Regions from separate parts of the Homo sapiens genome. Here regions 2 and 3 are each linked to region 1. Evidence: fine-mapped expression QTL. A gene starts in region 1. Each other region holds a variant in brackets. All regions are shown on one strand. Distances are from middle to middle.

Evidence for each region. PIP is the estimated chance that this variant, and not a neighbour inherited with it, causes the effect.
Region 2: its variant is the best candidate, but not a certain one, in a credible set for the expression of CNN3 in ileum (CEDAR, PIP 0.89).
Region 3: its variant is the best candidate, but not a certain one, in a credible set for the expression of CNN3 in cerebral cortex (GTEx, PIP 0.70).

What each region holds. Positions count from the first base shown.
Region 1 is chr1:94,924,642-94,930,618 of GRCh38, forward strand. CNN3 (calponin 3) reads right to left here and starts at 2,469. Exons shown (of 7, transcript NM_001839.5): 1 at 2,197-2,469. The coding sequence starts at 2,253. CNN3-DT (CNN3 divergent transcript) reads left to right here and starts at 1,719. Exons shown (of 3, transcript NR_168377.1): 1 at 1,719-2,099. RefSeq lists silencers at 1,577-2,006, 2,107-2,986.
Region 2 is chr1:94,955,723-94,961,699 of GRCh38, forward strand. The region is part of intron 2 of CNN3-DT (CNN3 divergent transcript); the gene reads left to right. Among named protein-coding and RNA genes, the nearest start is that of CNN3, 32 kb to the left of the region's middle. The variant T/TCAAA (reference allele first, on the strand shown) is at 2,509.
Region 3 is chr1:94,885,311-94,891,287 of GRCh38, forward strand. It overlaps SLC44A3 (solute carrier family 44 member 3), which reads left to right. Exons shown (of 15, transcript NM_001114106.3): 13 at 5,820-5,957. Among named protein-coding and RNA genes, the nearest start is that of CNN3-DT, 38 kb to the right of the region's middle. The variant A/G (reference allele first, on the strand shown) is at 2,297.

The DNA.
Region 1 (5,977 bases):
ATGGGGGGAAGGCGACAGACAGCAGAGTTTGTGTAGAACATCCCTAAGTACTTCACTCAACTAAGACATCGCTTTTAGAGTTAAAATTCTTAGAATAGTCCAACTTCTGTGACCTTGAGCAAATCTTTCTGAGCTTCAGTGTACTGATCTGTAAATGATGTTGGATAATCCCAGCAATCCTCCTCACCTTACAGGACTGCTCTGCTGTTAAGATCAAAAGACTTCCTATGAAAGAATACTGTCTGAAAGGACTACAAAAATGAAACGGGTTATTAAAAAATGGGTTTGGTGCTTAAAGGGATAAATCCACAGCTTTCATAACTAACTTTCCAAAGGTTCTAAAAACTGAGGTTTTACCGTTTTTAAATATTTACAATAATTACAGTGATCTAGCCTGTGTATGCATTTCCTTGGATCTGCTCAGTATTAAGCAGGAAAAGGGCAAAAGCTGCTACATTAGTCAGCAAAAAAGAAATTAGCATGGATATTATTAACATCCAAGAAAAGTAAGTCACTTGAAGGGCTGCCAACGTTATCAGTACCTCATTTACAATGCAAAAGGTAGTAGAGACTCAACTGCTGCCAGCCAAGAATCACTGGGGGGAATTACAATGAATGTGCACAACCAGGCCAAAGTATCACATCACATCCAACATTTTGGACATGCCCATTCCTCTGAAGTTTCCTAAAGTTCGGTTTGTAAATCCTGGAAGGAAGGAAACAGTAACTTGTTACAAACTTTTCAGTTGGTGAGGTTTGCACTCAATCATACACAAACCATTCACCTTTCTGCTCTCTAAAAAAATTGTTAGCAAACTGTTGTCTAATACGGGCAACACGTTTGAAAAGGTAAAGGACCTAAACATTTCAACTTTAGATACATAGACTAAAATCAACTCCTTGCTTCAAAGACAGTATGATGTGCAGACTAACAGCGGGAGACAAGAGCCACAACTCTCCCTTGGGGTTTGACAACGGTGCGCTTCATTACCTCTTTACATAATTCGCTTCACACCGCCTACCCCCGCAGCCCCGGGATGTTCCAGCTCTGACAATGCCAGTGCCTTCCACCAGCGGTCGGACGGTGCGGTGGCAATCCTGACATGCTTGGGCTCCCGGGAGGTTAATGGGAATTAAACCACAGGCAGCCCTCCTTTGTGGCGCTTTGGCCAGAACAGCAGAAAGGAGACAATGAGCGTTCTGTGCACAGTTCCGCGCCGATTGGCTGGTCTCTCCCCCCAGAAACCCCTGATGTCATGGGCTTGGAATGCAGGGAGGGAGGAAGGAAGGAGAGGATTTGGGGAGGGGGACGCCTCTCATCTCTTTCCCAGGCCAAAAGTCCTAAAGATAAACCTAACGCATTCTTGGGCTCAGTGGCAAAGCTGAGCGTCACCAAATCCCAATCGCTCCAAACTATAAGCCGCCTCAGCAAACAAGCCCCAAACAAAAGCAACCCACAAAAATAATCCTTTATGTCGTGAAAGTCTAATGTACTTCAAACTTCTCAGTGTTTCATAAAAAGTCTCAAGCCTAAGCAGATATCACTCGCACAGTGGCGCGCTCAGGCTTTGTCTCCATTTCCCGCAAAAGCAACAGCAGAAGCAGCAGCAGCAATCTGCCTCCAAATGCCTCCCAGGCACCGAGATCGGAGACTGTGATGGGTCCCGGACCGGCTTCCGTTCCTCGGGGCCCCTGGGGTCGGCGGGACATTAGGCGGTCTCTCTCCCCGTGGGGAGGCGCGGAGTCCGCCAGCACCCGGGGCCCGGGCAGATGGCGGGGGCTGCGGCAGCGGCTCGCCGGGTCCCTGGCCGCGCAGACGGGCTCCGCCTAAGGGCGAGTGGCCACGCAGGAGCGCCCCCTTCCCGGAGGGCGCGTTCTGCAGTCACCAAACGGCCCCCGAGACCCCCGCAGCCGGAAAGGCTGGCGCCGCGGGACTCCAGGCGCCCGGGAACCCACCGCCAGCCACTAGTCCTGTCCCACGGCGCGGGAACAAAGCCAGGCGGGTGCCCGGGAGCCGGCCCCGCAAGCCCGGGGACTGGACGCGACCGGGACAGGCAGAGACGCTCGCGCCGCCTCGACGGCCCCTCTCCAGGAAAACGGTGAGCCACAGCGCGAAGAGCAAACGAAGCACGGCCCAGCGCCAGGCCAGCCCAAGGGTGCCCCGGGGGCCCCCGCGCCCGCCCGAGCCAGGCGTACCTTGTTCTTGACTTCGGCCGAGAGCCCATAGGAAGGGCCCTTGTTGAAGTGGGTCATGGTGGTTCGGGCGGCGGGAAGAGACAGCGCTGGGGTCCGGGGTCTCTCGCACTTCGCTTCCCCGCTCCTGGCCCCGAGGAGTGGCCGCCGCGGGGGATGCTCGAACTCCCTCCTCTGGGAGGCGCAGGAGACGGCCGCGGGGCGCGGGCGGTGCCTGGGCGACTGGGTCCAACTGGGTGCTACAGAGCCTCGAGCTCCGCTGCGAAGCACCCGGCTGCCTCGCTCGCCGCCCGCACCTCGGTTCCCCACAGGCCGCCCCCGCCTCCGCCTGGGCCTTCGAGGATTGGCCGCCGGGCCCGACCAATGGAGGGCCGCCTCCTCCCGCCTCTGCGCCGAGGGGCGGTGCGGCCAATTGAAGGGCCGCGGGGGCCGCTTTCCCTCCCGCTCCCTCCCCGCGAGGTCCCCGGCCCCCGCCCCAGCCCTCACGCCACCGGGGCCGGCGGCTAGGCGGCCCCGCCCCCGGGCTAGGCAGGGCGCCTGGGGGCTTCCCAGCCACAGGCCATTCACGTCAACCTCCAGGCATCCTCCGCGGCGGGCCGGACCGGGCCGGCGGAGGGGAGCGGAAGCCCACCGGGGCTGGCCCGCCGCTGACCCGCCGCCTCCGTCTGCCTCCTCCCGGGCTCTGGGCCCAGCGCGCCCAGATGCCGGGCAGGACCCCTCCGCCCGCTGCTGGAACACCAATAGCAGCGTTGGAGCCTCTGGGCCGGAGGAACTGGGGCCTCCACCGACACCTGCTTCTTCCCTCACCTCGCAGCCTTCCACACCTGTTGATCTGACCTCTGCCCCGCTGCCGCCCAGGAGTAACCTAAGGCTTTTGGCCTGATTCGAGCTCACTCCGTCTAAACCTCTAAATGCGGTGCGAAAAAATCCTGGGGAATGTGCCATGCAAAGCCTGGGCATTTCAAGTGCTTTTCTGGATTCGCATCAACTCCTCTTTACAGGCATCTTTATCCGGAATTCAGCTCGTCCCAAACCCCACGTGGTGTAGCTCTGCTTGTGTTTTTGAATCCCGGGGCCTCTTTGAATCAGAAGCCCTTTGTATAGAGATAAGTATCCTTTAGGCCAGAATCAGCCTCCATTTTTTTCGCAGTCCCATTTCCTACCCGTAATACTTTCTTCTGATTTTAAAGCCATTTGATAGAGAAGGGACAGGGAACAGAACCTTCGCCCCCCGCCTGAGCAGCTGGTAGACTAGATATCTTCCAAACATTATCTCATTTACTTCCCTGGAGTTACAAATAGGTAGATTTCATGTCCGTTGAGGGGTGAGAAAGCTGAAACTTTGAGACTTAAGAATCCTGGCCGAGGTCAGCCTCCTCCGAAGCTTCATCTCTTGCCACCACTTTCTGGTGCACACCTAGGACAGATTTCAATCCCTGAGATCCCAGGATGAAACCTATGTTTGCCAAATACCAGCTACTGTGCCAGAAGAGATCATGGAACCAGGTGTGGAAAGCTGCTTGAGAAGAGGAGCCAAAACATCATAGTTGAACCGTCCTGGAATAGAAGTGAGTAAGGTGAACCAGGTGTGGTGGCTCATGCCTGTAATCCTAGCACTTTGGGAGACCGAGGTGGGAGGATTGCTTGAGGCCTGGAGTTCAGGAACATCCTGGGCAACATAGCAAGATCCTGTCTCTACAAAAAATCCAAAGTTTTTTTAAATTAAAAAAAAAAAGTGAGTAAGGCAGCTTGAACCGGAAATGCACAAAACTGCTATCCAGTTTGCAAGGCTTTTCCCAATGACTTTGAGGGATGGAACCTGAAGGAAGCGGGAGGAGGCAAATAGGGAGGAAAGTGAAATGATTTATAAATGACTTGCTAATTTTGTCCAAAGGGAGTAATGATAATTAGGGCATTCTTCCCACACGAAGATGACACAATTGACCCAATATCATTGAGGCTAACAGTTTGGGCTGTTTTTCCAGTAGTATGACAGTGACGGTGTGTCAACCGCAGGACCTCACCCACATTTCTTTGGGACCTAGGAGTGTGGGAAATAGCAGCCAGATTTGAGGTACAAATCATGGTGTCCAGCCTGCAAAGCCTTTTTGCAGCAATCTAAGCCTGACTGCTCCTGTTGTATGCTCAAAGTCATTTTAATCTACTTTAGCTTATTGTAAAATGTTCAAGAATTGTATTTTGTCTTGAAAACCATGAATTTTATTGTTTAGGGGGAGTTATTTTTTAAGGAGTGCAGGATTTCAGTTTTGGATGATGAAAAAGTTTTGAAGATGGGTAGTGACAGTGGTCACACAACATTGTAAATGTACTTAATGCCATTGTACACTTACGTGACTTTAAAGTAAACATGAAATTTTCTACATTTGTTTGTTTGATCAACTGTTATCCTCCCTAAGGTACTTGAAGTTCTTTCTGACATTGCCACTGGAACTTACTATTTAAATATTGTTGGTCCTCTTGGATTCCATCAGTACTCCAGAGACTTCCTTCGTTTCTAATTTAACTCATTGTGTAAGAATACGTAATGCTGTTGTTAGCACTAGGGAATGTATCTGAGTCTCATGCACCAAAGTGTGTTAGCAGCAGCAAATCTGTATGGGTCTGCAGCAACCTCAATTCTTGCCTCCTCCAAAGAAAGAATTCTACCGAGAGGCATAAGGCAGAGGGAGAGGCCAAGGCACGTTTTAGAGCAGGAGTGAAAGTTAGAGCAAGAATGAAACGAAGTAATGTACACTTGGAAGAGGGCCAGGCGGGCAACTTGAGAGATTCAAGTGCGCTGCTTGACCTTTGACTTGGGGTTTTATACATTGGCATGCTTCCAGGGGGTTGTGTCCCTTTTCCCCTGATTCTTCCCTTGAGGTGGGCTGTCTGCATGTGCAGTGGCCTGCCAGCACTTGGGAGGGACCACATGCTCAGTGTGTTAACTGAGGTTGTACGCATGCTCACTTGAGGCATTCTTCGCTTACTAGTCAAGTGTTCCTAGAAGAAGGTCATATATGAGTACCAGTTAAATGCCACCATTTTGCCTCTTAGTTCACACCTGTGAGCCCACTCAGCCAACTCCTAAGATCCTATCCAGAAGCTGCTGATCACCAGTTGTAGGTATTTTCTAGCCATTGGGAGACTGCCTTTCCCTGGTGCCGGCTGTGACCAGTTATTATTTTAGAGAGACAGTTTAACAACTGCCTGACCACCTGATGGTTGCGTGACATTCCTGGTGGGAGCGGGGAGCCCTCTCCTGCTCTGCTTGTGTCTGACTACCTACTGTGGCACTATAGAATCAAATGAGAAAAACTTAAAATTTGGGACAATTTTAACAGCTTTATTGAAGTATATTGATATAACAAAGTATATTTAAAGTGTTCAGTTTGATACACACATATACACATAGATACACCTATTTAAAAACCCATCACCACAACAGACAAAGGACATATTCATCATACCCAAAAGTTTCCTCATGTAGCCCCTCCCTCCCAGTCTTCCTTACCTCTCCACCCCACCAGGCAACCCCTGATATGCTTTATGTAACTATACATTAATTTGTATTTCCTAGAATTTTATATAATTGGAATCACACATTGTATATTCTGTTTTATCTGGCTTCTTTCACTCAGCAAAATTATTACGAGATTCACTGACGTTGTAGCATGTATCATTAGTTCATTCCTTTTATTACTGAGTAGTATTCAACTGTAGGGATACACCAGTGATTTTACCCATTCCCTTATTGATGAACATTTTGGTTGTTTCTAGATTTTGG
Region 2 (5,977 bases), 31 kb after region 1:
TCTGTTGGTTTCCCCTGGGCTCCTTCATGTGTCTGCGTAAGTTAGTGACAGCTGGGCTGGAAGGCTTAAGAGGGCCTCCCTCACACGTCTGACAGTTGACGTTGGGGAATGGTTGCTGGCTAGAGAGCCTCAGTTCTTCTCCATGTGGCCTCTCATCTTCCACTAGGCCAGACTGCCTTCCTTGCATTGGAGTCTCAGGGCAGCTTTCCAAATGAACAAAGGCAGAAGCTGCCAGGCCTGTTAGGCCTAAGCTTCAGGACGCTTAGGTCATGTCTGCTGCATTGTATTTGTCAAAACAAGTCACAAGTCCAGCCCAGATCCAAGAGGGTGGAAAAACGAACTCCACTCCTCCAAGGGAGAAGCAGCAAGGTCACACTGCAAAGGAGCATACAAACTGGGATGGGAGGAATTTATGAGCATAAAACAAACTAGCACACTAACATATGAAGGCCTGTGGAATTTGTTCTCTGTCAAGGTCTGTCCCAATCTGACCTGTGTTTTAGGATGATAACTCTGGTGATTTGTGGATATGAGTTAAAAAGGTCAGAGATTAGAAATAGGAAGCCCAGCAGGGAGTACATTTCAGTAGGCTAGGCAAGAAGGAAGAGGGCATTGTTCATAGGCTAGGGATGGGGAGTGCATATGGAGAAATGGACATGAGATATTTCTGAAGTAGAATTAGAGAGAGGCCAGTGTTTACTATATGCTCTGTACCAGCATAGGTGATATAGGGAGATGTGAGTAAGATATTAGTAAGAGCCAGCCAACAAATAGATACTCAAATATTTGGTTAATGAGGAACTTAAAATCTTTTTTGGAAAAAAGGAAAACCTAACAACAACAAAAAAAGATTCTAGTGAACTACACGTTTACTTCATCTGATTACAGAACCTCTCTTTCTCGTTTTTTTATTTTTTTGAGAAGCAGTCTTGCTTTGCTGCCCAGGCTGGAGTGCAGTGGCACGATCTCAGCTCACTGCAACCTCTGCCTCCTGGGTTCAAGTGATTCTTGTGCCTCAGCCTCCTGAGTAGCTGGGACTACAGGCATGCACAACCGTGCTTGGCTAATTTTTGTATTTTTAGTAGAGACAGGGTTTCAACATGTTGGCCAGGCTGGTCTCGAACTCCTGACCTCAAGTGATCTGCCCACCTTGGCCTCCCAAAGTGCTGGGATTATAGGAGTGAGCCACAGCACCCGGCCACTTTCCCTCTTCTGAACACACATTATACTTACCATCTGTCCTGTTCTCTGCACATGTAATAACATACTGCCTTCTACTGTTTTGTTTTGTTTTTTTGAGACAGAGTCTCTCTCTGTTGCTCAGGCTGGAGTGCAGTGGCGCAACCCTTGGCTCACTGTAGCCTCAACCTCCTGGCTCAGGCCATCCTCTTTTCTCAGCCACCTGAGTAGCTTGGGTTCCAGATGTGCTCCACCACACCTGGCTAATGTTTTGTAGAGACAGGGTCTCGCTTTGTTGCCCAGTCTTGTCTTGAACCCCTGAGCTCAAGCAATCCTCCCACCTTGGCCTCCTAAATTGCTGTGAGTAGAGACATGAGCCACTGTGCTGGCCTTCTATTATTATTTAACCTTTTTATTTTTGTTAACCTTATTTTTCTTGCTAGATTTTAGATCTGTGAAAGGTCTAATGATGTGAGGCCACTCAGGAAATGCACAGAATAAGCTCTGTGCCGTATTAGAAGGAAACAAATTGGATGGGGACTCTTGTCAGAGAAAACACCAAAGAGATTAGAGTTGCAGTGGAATAATTCTTAAAAACACACGTAAGACAGCAAGTGTTCACCAAGAAGACTGGTGGCTACCAAATGCTTGCTCCCTTTTCCGTAGCAGAAAGTTGTTGTTGGGAAGTGGCTCTGCAGTCAAGGGCCATCTTCCCCAGCCCCACCATTCCTCTCCATGGAGTCATGTGATTCATTCTCAGCAAAGGAAAGTGAGTGGGAATAGTGGAGGCCACATCTGGGCCACCATGGTTAAAACGCAGATTTGTCTTCTCTATTCTCACTTTCCTTTCTGCCAGCTGGACATAGAGGATGCAGAGGGCCTGGAGGATAATGGATCATGGGTGAAAGAAGTTTGGGTGTCTGAATTACTGCATGGTGGAAAAACTCCCCCCAACAGGGAACTCTGGCTTTGGGCTGCTCTTTGAGAGAGACATAAATTCATTGTGTTCAGCCACTGAAATGTGGGAGGATTATTTGTTACAGCAGTGTATTAGTCAGGGTTCTCCAGACAGATAGGACCAATTGGTTATGTATACGTATAGAAAGAGATTCGTTGAGATTTATTGTAAGGGATTGGCTCATACAATTATGAAGGCTGGCAAGTTCAAAATCTGCAAGGTAATTAGCCAGGCATAGTGGCATGTGCCTGTAGTCCCAGCTACTTGAGAGGCTGCGGCAGGAGGATCACTTGATCCCAGGAGGTCAAGGCAGCTGTGATCATGCCACTGGACTTCAGCCTGGATGACAGAGTGAGATTCTGTCTCAACAA[T/TCAAA]CAAACAAACAAACAAAAATTTGCAAGGTAGGCCAGCAGGCTGAAGACCCAGGGAGGGCTGATATACAGTTCAAGTCCAAAGACCATGTGCTAGTAGAATTTCCTCTTGCTAGGGGAGGTGAGACCTTTGTTCTATTCACCCCTTCCACTGATTAGATGAGACCCACCCACACCATGGCAGGCAATCTACTTTACTCAAAGTTGACAGATTTAAATTCTAATCTAATTCAAAAGCACCATCACAAAAACATCCAGAATAATGTTTCACCACTATCTGGGCACCGTGGCCCAGCCAATTAACCACCCCAAGCAGCTAACACTTCCTTTATTTGCACCAAGATGTGTTGCGACTAGTAGCCAACTCATGCAGAAATGTCATATTTCTCACTCCTCTGTCTTCACTTAGAGGCTGTTCCTACCCTGGTAAAGAAAGGCACATTATTTTCAAGGTATAGTGAATACCTCAAACTTTCCACCACGATATAATGACTTGTTTGCAAAAGCCCTGGAGAACAGAGCATAATCATGACATTGCAATCCATTATGTCTGCATAGGAAAGGATATGGTCACCTGGGTTTTATTAAACAATTTCTGTCTCTGCCTAGAATCAGAATCAGGCACAGCGAAGATTACCACCAAGGAGCCTGCCCCACGTTTCCATTTTCAACAGAAATAAATGATGGGTTATTCTTGTAGTTGAGTGCCCTTTAGAGTGAGGTCGCCTGACTTCTGTTGTGTTCACTGTTGTGCCTCTCATGTCTTGATTCTTATGATGAAGTTTATAAGCAGGGTAGAACAACAGGACTGAAAAGAGGATAGATATAAACCAGTACCTTAGGGAACAACTAGTAAAATTAGCTTCCTTACCTTTGGCAGCAAAAATGGGCACTCAAAAGCTAAGCATCTCCCCTGCCCCTTGCCATGTTTTATAAGAAGTGGAGGGGAATTAGTATTATTTCTTGGCTCTAACAATAAAACTAAAAAGTTTACTACAACCAGCATTCTGATCAATGCCCTGTAATAATCTAGGTAACTTACTACCCTCTTTATGAAGCCTACCCTTACCACTCTAGAACTCTTTATTTCTTTTCTTTTCTTTTCTTTTTTGAGATGGAGTCTTGCTCTGTCACCCAGGCTAGAGTGCAATGGCACAATTTCAGCTCACTGCAACCTCCGCCTCCCAGGTTCAAGTGATTCTCCTGCCTCAGCCTCCTGAGTAGCTGGGATTACAGGCACCTGCTACCACGCCCGGCTAATTTTTGTATTTTTAGTACAGACAGGGTTTCACCATGTTGGTCAGGCTGGTCTCGAACTCCTGACCTCAGGTGATCCAGCCTCCTCAGTCCCCAAAGTGTTGGGATTACAGGCTTGAGCTACCATGCCCGGCCAGGACTCTATTTCACAGGCATTTATTCACAAATATCAGTTGAGCATCTACTATATAGTGCTATATAGCATTACATCAAGAATTGTAAAGAACTCGAAAAAGCACAAGTTGTGCTCTCATACATCTCAATAAACTCAAGATATAATATCCACGTACACTAACTTTGTGTGTGTGAGAGTGTGATGCTTAAAGGATAATGCTATTCTGCTTTTATTTATTTTTTTAATTTTTTGAGTCACTGTGTTGCCCAAGTTGGAGTGCAGTGGTGCAGTCACCACTCACTGCAGCCTGGACCTCCTGGGCTAGGTGATCCTCCTGCTTCTGCCTCCTGAGTAGCTGGGACCACAGGCACACACCACCACATCCAGCTAATTTTTTAAATTATTTGTATCCATGGTGTCTCTCTATGTTGTTCAGGCTGGTCTCAAACTCCTGGGCTCAAGCAATCCTCCCACCTCAGTGCTGGGATTACAGGTGTGAGCCACTGCACCTGCCCAAGTCCAGGAGGAACTTTAACCCTCTGTGTTCCTCTTGGACTTTCCTTGTCTAGGATATCTGAACACTGTCTATGGCCGGTAGAATGGGCTGGTTTTATAGATCCTCTACCTTGAAGGCCAATCTGCCTCTCTGATCTCTTTTTAAAAATCCCTTTTTCCTCTGAATTGTAATGGAATTACATAATCACTACTGAGGGGATCTGGGACAGGGACAAGAGGGGATAGGGAGATCTTCTCATTTGTGGGGGAGAGTGGGAGTGTCCGGCAGCCCAGGGGCCTGTGGGTCTGGTCTACTTCCTGAGAGTCCCTCCCTGATTCTAGAAGGAGGACAGGGCAGACATGGCATGAGGAGGAAGCCTGTTGACTTGTTGACTTGCAAAGAATCTTAGCAAGGTGCCAGAGTGAATGCACCCGGACACGGGGAAGCCCACCATGTGGACATAGCTTGGTTGCTGCATGTGTAACTAGAAAAAATACAGTTGTCTGTTGCCGGCTTCCTGCTTCTCCCTTTTTTCCCCATCACTTGTTCTTGAAGCTAGTGGGAGTTGGATTCTTCCTGTTTGACCGTGTTGGAGTGATATCCTAGCCTTCAGCTCTGTGGCCTGCAAGCCCCTCAGGCCTCTCTCATACCTTAAAGAGGAGAGATGGGGTCAGGAAGAGACTTCCTACTCTCACTATATAGTGCAGCTCTTGATTTATTTATCACATTGAAATGTTTGTTTGTTTGTTTGTTTATTTATTTCAGACAGAGTCTCACTCTGTCACCCAGGCTGAAGTGCAGTGGCGCCGTCTTGGCTCACTGCAACCTCCGCCTCCCGGGCTCAAGCAATTCTCCTGCCTCAGCCTCCAGAGTAACTGGGATCACAGGCCTGTGCCACCACGCCTGGCTAATTTTTCTTTTTTTTTTTTTTTTTTTTTTTTTTTTTTTTTTTTTTAGGGGAGACAGGATTTCACCATCTTGGCCATATGGTCTCAAACTCCTGGGCTCAAGCCATCTGCCTTCCTTGGCTTCACAAAGTGCTGGTTCACAGGAGTGAGCCACCACGCCTGGCCTGGATTGAAAACTTTAGACTGAGGTTTAGGTACTTTTGTTGGGTTCAACCTTCAGTAATTCCTCTAGGCTAGGGTTCAATCCCAGTAACCAAGCTCACCAGTCCTTGCTCCCAAATATAACTGCTACTTTTCTCTTTTTTTTTTCAAGCTGAACCTCAAAAAGTTAGCCTGGCGAGGGGAGGATGATGAGATTTCCCCTGTTGTCACATAAACAAGGAAGTAAAGGGGGCCCCTTGTGCTCTCAGAACTCCAAGCATGAAACGATGTGAGTCTAAGCATTTAAATCACTTATCTGGGATGAAGCATAAAAAGCTTGATTTTTTTTTTTTTAAACCAATTAGGTTTTAGCCTCCATGATACATTTTGGGGCCTGTGGTTATCACTGCAATTACACTTCAATTCATGCATTGGATACTTTGAAAAGGTTTAATAAACAATAAGAATATCAGCTGCCATTTATATTTATGCTTCTAGCACTGTCCCAGGGGCTTTAATATGGTACCTATAACCCTTCCAATTATTCTCATTTTA
Region 3 (5,977 bases), 39 kb before region 1:
CTAATGAGACGATGATCCGAGGGTGACTGGCCACGAAGCACAAACATAAAGCATCATGGAACATTGGAGTTGGTGGAAGTCTTTTCCAAGCAGCAAAGTGAGGGCCCTTGAGAAGTGACGTGATTTGGTGGAAGCCGTTCCGCAAGTCTTTGGAGGCAACATGACTGGAATCCAGCCTCTTTCCACTAAGCCATCCTGCCACATCCTCAGCTGTTTTCAATGGTGCATCTCATGAGAACACCACTTTGTTATTTTGAACTTTCCAGGAGAAAAAGCACAAAGTACAGCTCAAAGTAAAGTTTTCCAGCAGATGGGCCTGAACGAGTTAGAGGTCCACTTCATGGAAGATGGACGCAACATCTATGACACGCGTGGAACCGGGGGCACACTACTTTACCTCTCTGTGCTTTAGTTTCCTTAACTACCTCATCGGGTTGGAGTTAAGAGGACTAAATGAGTGAATGTGTTCGGGGAGAGGTAGCATAGAGCCTGGCACATAGTACATGCAAGATTAATGCCATTATTATTTATTATTAGCGTTATTATTTATTTACACACAGAAGTTGCACACCTGCCTACTGACTGGAAAAGAAAAAGGCCACAGATGGAAATTAGAAAGTTGTAGCTATCATTAGGTCTGTGCCAAGGCATTTGGGATATATCACTAAGGCATCCACCGAGGTGGGGGTGGAGGGGAGCCAGAGTGCCTGGAGGAGTTACTATTCCTAATACTCCTATTTTCTCCCAAGAAGAACTCACGGTCTTTGGGCCTAGCCCCTGGCTTATGACTGCTGGCGGGTCGGTGTGCTCAATGGCTGCATGGCCACCACAGCATTTCCACCCAACTCCAGCAGAGCCCCGTAGGCATTGTGGAGGTGCTTGGGGAGTCTCCTAGGCTTGAATAGGAATGAGCCTTGGAAGGTGCAGAGCTTCGTGGCTCAGCAGAAGATGGTGATGAGGGAGATCTGACCTGAACTTCCCCAGGGCAGCCTGGGAGAGCTTCCAGAGGCACAGGCTGAAAATCGTGAGTCCTCCTGAAACTTCCTTTCACTGCTCTTGCTCCACACTCTGCATCAGCCCCACCCACCGAGGGCTGACCCCCGACTCTTCCAGACCTGTTTCCCATTTCTCCTCTGCTGGGGCCCCCCAGTAGCCTGCTGGTATGCTCATGTCTGTGGCTCATGTTGCTGGCTCCTGCTGCTGCCTCCTACCCTGCTGGAGACAGGCAACACTGGGGCCAGCTCGTATGCCACTTCCATGAAGCCTTCCCTGATCCCTCCTGCTGGGCCCTCTCTTCCCCTCTCCCTCCAGCTTGTGGTTCTGCTCTTTGTGGCCCTCACATGTGCACTTGTGCTATGTATTTCATTGTTTTGAAGCCCTCACAGCCACACAGGGCGTCCTCATTGTGTTCTTCCCCCAGTGCTTCTCAGCCACTCGGGACAGTCCCAGGTGACCAGTCCATTAAAGTCTGAAAACTAATCCACCTGTACCTGGAGGGAGTCTTGGATCCCAAGCAAGGGAGTGAGAATTGGGACATAATATTGAGATACTACCAATGCCAACTTGGGAATCCTTCCTCGTATCTGTCTTGTGTGTTTATAGCTTCAATTTCAAGACAGAAATATCCACCCACCTGTTTTGTGATGCTAAAGAAGTATGCACACTGAATTTTGGGAATAAATCAAAAGCCGAATGCCACTACCTCCTGCTTGCTTGTTTAAAGGTTAGCCTTTAGGATCTCTTAACTTCCACAACCAATAAAACGTGTTTCCTAGTCCTTATTATGGCCAATCATTTCCACATTTTGTTAGAGTCTGCAGATTACCTTGGCACGTTAATCCTGAGTTCTGTCATCCCAGGCAAATACAAATGCTCAGAACAAGGACTTACGATGAAAATGTTAGTGCACTCCATCTTCCAGCTGCCTGACAAGCAGCTTCTACTCAGAATAAGTATAAATTAGCTAATGCTGAAGCTGCAGAAATGTTTAATCCGTATCCTGTGTCTTGAGTGATTCCTCCCTCCTCCCCCTATTCATTCAGATGTTAATTCTAGATCTCTCTGTTGCACTCAGGGTTGAATCTGGTAAAATGCTAGTGGTATGGTACCTGCAGGAAGGCATATATAATTTCTCTATCAGAGTGCTTTTAATGCCTTCTTTCAGTGGGCCTGATACATAAGAAAAGATAAATGCTTATGGGCCCCAAAACTCTTTGGAGTCAACACATGCATGAGAAAGTATAATACCTTTTTAAATTTTAATCATTTTAGCCAAAGAGCGAAATCTGTTTTTACT[A/G]CTTATGAGAGATGGTGCTAAATTAAATACGAGGCAGTGATCTGCAGAAAAAGAAGTCCCCACAAAAACAGTGCTTCCCCATGGGAAGCAAGAAGCACTTTAGGAAGCTTAGAGTGGGGAAGTGATGGGGTGGTGGGCTGGAGGCAGCCTGAATGAAGAGAGGAGGCAGAGACAGAGGCTGAGCGGCAATGGTGGAGCTGCTGTAAGACGATGCTGGGGGCTGGCAGGTGGTCTAAAAAGCCCTTTCCTGGATCCCTGTGGGTGTGAGGGATTAAAGCCTACAGGTAAAGCAACTACAGGCCCCTGCCACACCTCCTCAGGTGCTTAAAGAGTTGCCTCTGTGTTCCCAGTTGTAAATGAGATCATCTTTGGTGATGTCTGGATGATAATAACCACTCTTTATTACACATTTTCTCTGTGCTTTACAGGGAGTAGGTTCTTTAATCCTCCCAACATCCCTTTGCGGTAGGTGCTGTAAGTCATTTTATAGATGAGGAAATTGAGGTCTTAGAGAGGTTAGATCATTTGCCCAAGACCAACAGCTAGTCAGTGGTAGAATTGGGATTTGAGCACAGAGACAGTCTGGCTACAGAGCCTGTGCTTACCGTAACCACCATGCTTTTAAATAGCAATTTTTCCTAATGAAAATTGATAGTGTAATGTCCAGAAGGTTAGAATTTAAAAAATTAAAATAAAACGGTCTCTGTCTCATGGATTCACCAGGGGACCTGGGGGAAATGCCCTTGATCTTGGTTTCCAGTCTATAAAAGAACAATTATGCCATTCTTCACCCACCCATCCTACAGATGTGCTTTGAGGATGAATGAATAGATTGGTCATCAGGGCTTTGAAAACCCAAGATGATTGAAGATGCCTAGTTAAATAATATGAGTAAATGAGTTTCCACATCCCTGCACAAGACTCAGGCCCCCAAACTGGAGCAGCTTTCCAGCAACAGCTGGTTTGAGATTTTCAAAGCAAATTTCACGCACATTCTATGTAAGTCCAAAACCAAAATTTCCTTGTGGAACTTTCTTTTTTTTTTTTGCAGGAAATTCATCTGACGTCTCACTGAAAATCTCTAAGGCAAGCATGGTGCCCTATCAGGGATATGGTTTCCAGCCTTTTGTCTTTTTTTTTTGAGGCGGAGTCTCGCTCTGTCACCCAGGTTGGAGTGCAGTGGTGCGATCTCGGCTCACTTCAACCTCTGCTTCCCGGGTTCAAGCGTTTCTCCTGCCTCAGCCTTCCCAGTAGCTAGGATCATAGGCATGTGCCACCACGACTGGCTATATATATATATATATACACATATATATGTATATTTTGTATTTTTAGTAAAGACAGGGTTTCACCATGTTGGTCAGGCTGGTCTTCAACTTCTGACCTCTTGATCTGCCCCAACCCCTGGCCTCCCAAAGTGCAGGGATTACAGGCATGAGCCACCGTGCCTGGCCCAGCCTTTTGTCTTTAAGAACCAAACATTCTTCTCTTGCTGGCCTTGAAGAGGGAGTTTGGTAAATTGGGTCAGTTAATTCTGCTCCCTTAACCCTATGCTTGTTAGTGGTCTTCATCTCTTCTACTTACTCTATTAGGACCCGCACTGTGGGAGGCTGATTACTGCAGTAGACTCCACACTGATTTCCTTACGATGTGTCTGAAGGGGTGTACAAAAGGGTTAATTTGTATATCATGAAATAAAAAACTTTCATCCTTTATCCAAACCAAAAGGAATGACAACAACCCAAGCAGGTAGTATTCTCATGTATTTTCCCAGGAAAGTTATAAATTCTTGTTGTAATCTGCAATGCAAGTAGCATTTTTAAAGATTTCAAGAGACATAAATGGTCTTGAAATGTAGTCATAAGGGGAAGGTATTTTGGAAAAAATAACCTGAGAAATCGTCTCATGTGAACATAATCACACACACACACACACACACACACACACATTTGTAGTCTTTGATATAGTAATCTTGTTTCTGAGAATTTATGCTTAAGAAATTATCTAAAATCAGGAAATCAAGAGTTCATTGCATAGTTGTTTATAACAGCAAAACATTTGAAACAGTCAACATGTCCCAGCTACACACATGCACGTACACATGCACATATGTATATCCCAGAATATGCGTTAAAAATTAAAATTATAAAAGCCATGTAGTAACATAAAAATGCTTATTATACAAAGAAAAAAGCCAGATATATAATCATGACACCATACCAGTTACACTGTATATTTTTTATTTCTAGCTTTTTTTTTTTGAGATGGAGTTTCGCTCTTGTTGCCCAGGCTGGAGTGCAATGGCACGATCTTGGCTCACCGCAAACTCCGCCTCCCGGGTTCAAGCAATTCTCCTGCCTCAACCTCCCGAGTAGCTGGGATTACAGGCATGCACCACCATGCCTGGCTAATTTTGTATTTTTAGTAGAGAAGGGATTACTCCATGTTGCTCAGGCTGGTCTTGAACTCCTGACCTCAGGTGATCCTCCCGCCTCGGCCTCCTAAAGTGTTGGGATTACAGGCATGAGCCACGGCACCTGGCCTATTTCTAGAATTTCTATTCAATTTGTTTTCTACTCTGCCTCTTCATTTTTCATACTGTTCTGTTTATTCCTTATGGTCACTGTTTCTTTCACTATTTTCTTAGTACCTTAAACATACCTCTCTAAATACTTTTTTTCCAGGTTGTTCTCAGGGTAGATTCTGTTTGTTGTGATGTTCATTTCCATGGGTCCTCTATAAAATTTTCCTGTGAGCTCCTCGTCTTCTCCAAGGGTTGTTATCTGTAGGACTCCTCTATTCCCTGGCCTGGGAGGTGGCGATGTTGCTTTGCCTTTGCAAAACCCTAGTAATTTTAACACTCTTAGGCACATAGTGCATTTCTGTACCACCTTCCTGGAATGGCTGACTGAGGCTGAATTGAGTATGAATCCTGAATTTGTTGAAGGAGCTCACTTCCCTAGCAAGGGCCTAATTGCATGCCTGTTGCACCTTTGGGTTCAGCTCTCACAAACCATTAGATCCCGCTTGCTTTCTGGTACCTAAACTTCCTTTCCTGCCCTCAAACTCTATTGTGCATTAAAAAATAACTTATCGCCAGGGTGGTGGCTCTCGCCTGTAATCCCAGCTACTCAGGAGGCCAAGGTACAAGAATCGCTTGAGCCCAGGAGGCAGAGGTTGCAGTGAGCCAAGATGGCACCACTGCACTCCAGCCTGGGCAACAGTGTAAGACTGTCTCAAAACAAGCAAATAAAACCCTTATGCTTTACCCATCATTTCCACATGTTTGTAGTGGGACATTCATATTAACCATAAGTACCTATTTATCTTTTCTATTTGCTGCAACTATATGAAAATATATATGGATATAATCAGACTGGAAAGGACTTTGAAAATGGTATTTGTTATGGGTAGAGAGAGTAGGTTTATTGTAACTCTAGTTTGCAAACACTCTGTATTAATATATTGCCTTAAAAACAATTGTTATAAGAATTATCTTTTAAACAATTCTCTTCTGTTTCAGAATGCATATACTACAACTGCTATTAATGGGACAGATTTCTGTACATCAGCAAAAGATGCATTCAAAATCTTGTCCAAGAACTCAAGTCACTTTACATCTATTAACTGCTTTGGAGACTTCATAATTTTTCTAGGAAAGGTGAGATATCTTGACTAAAT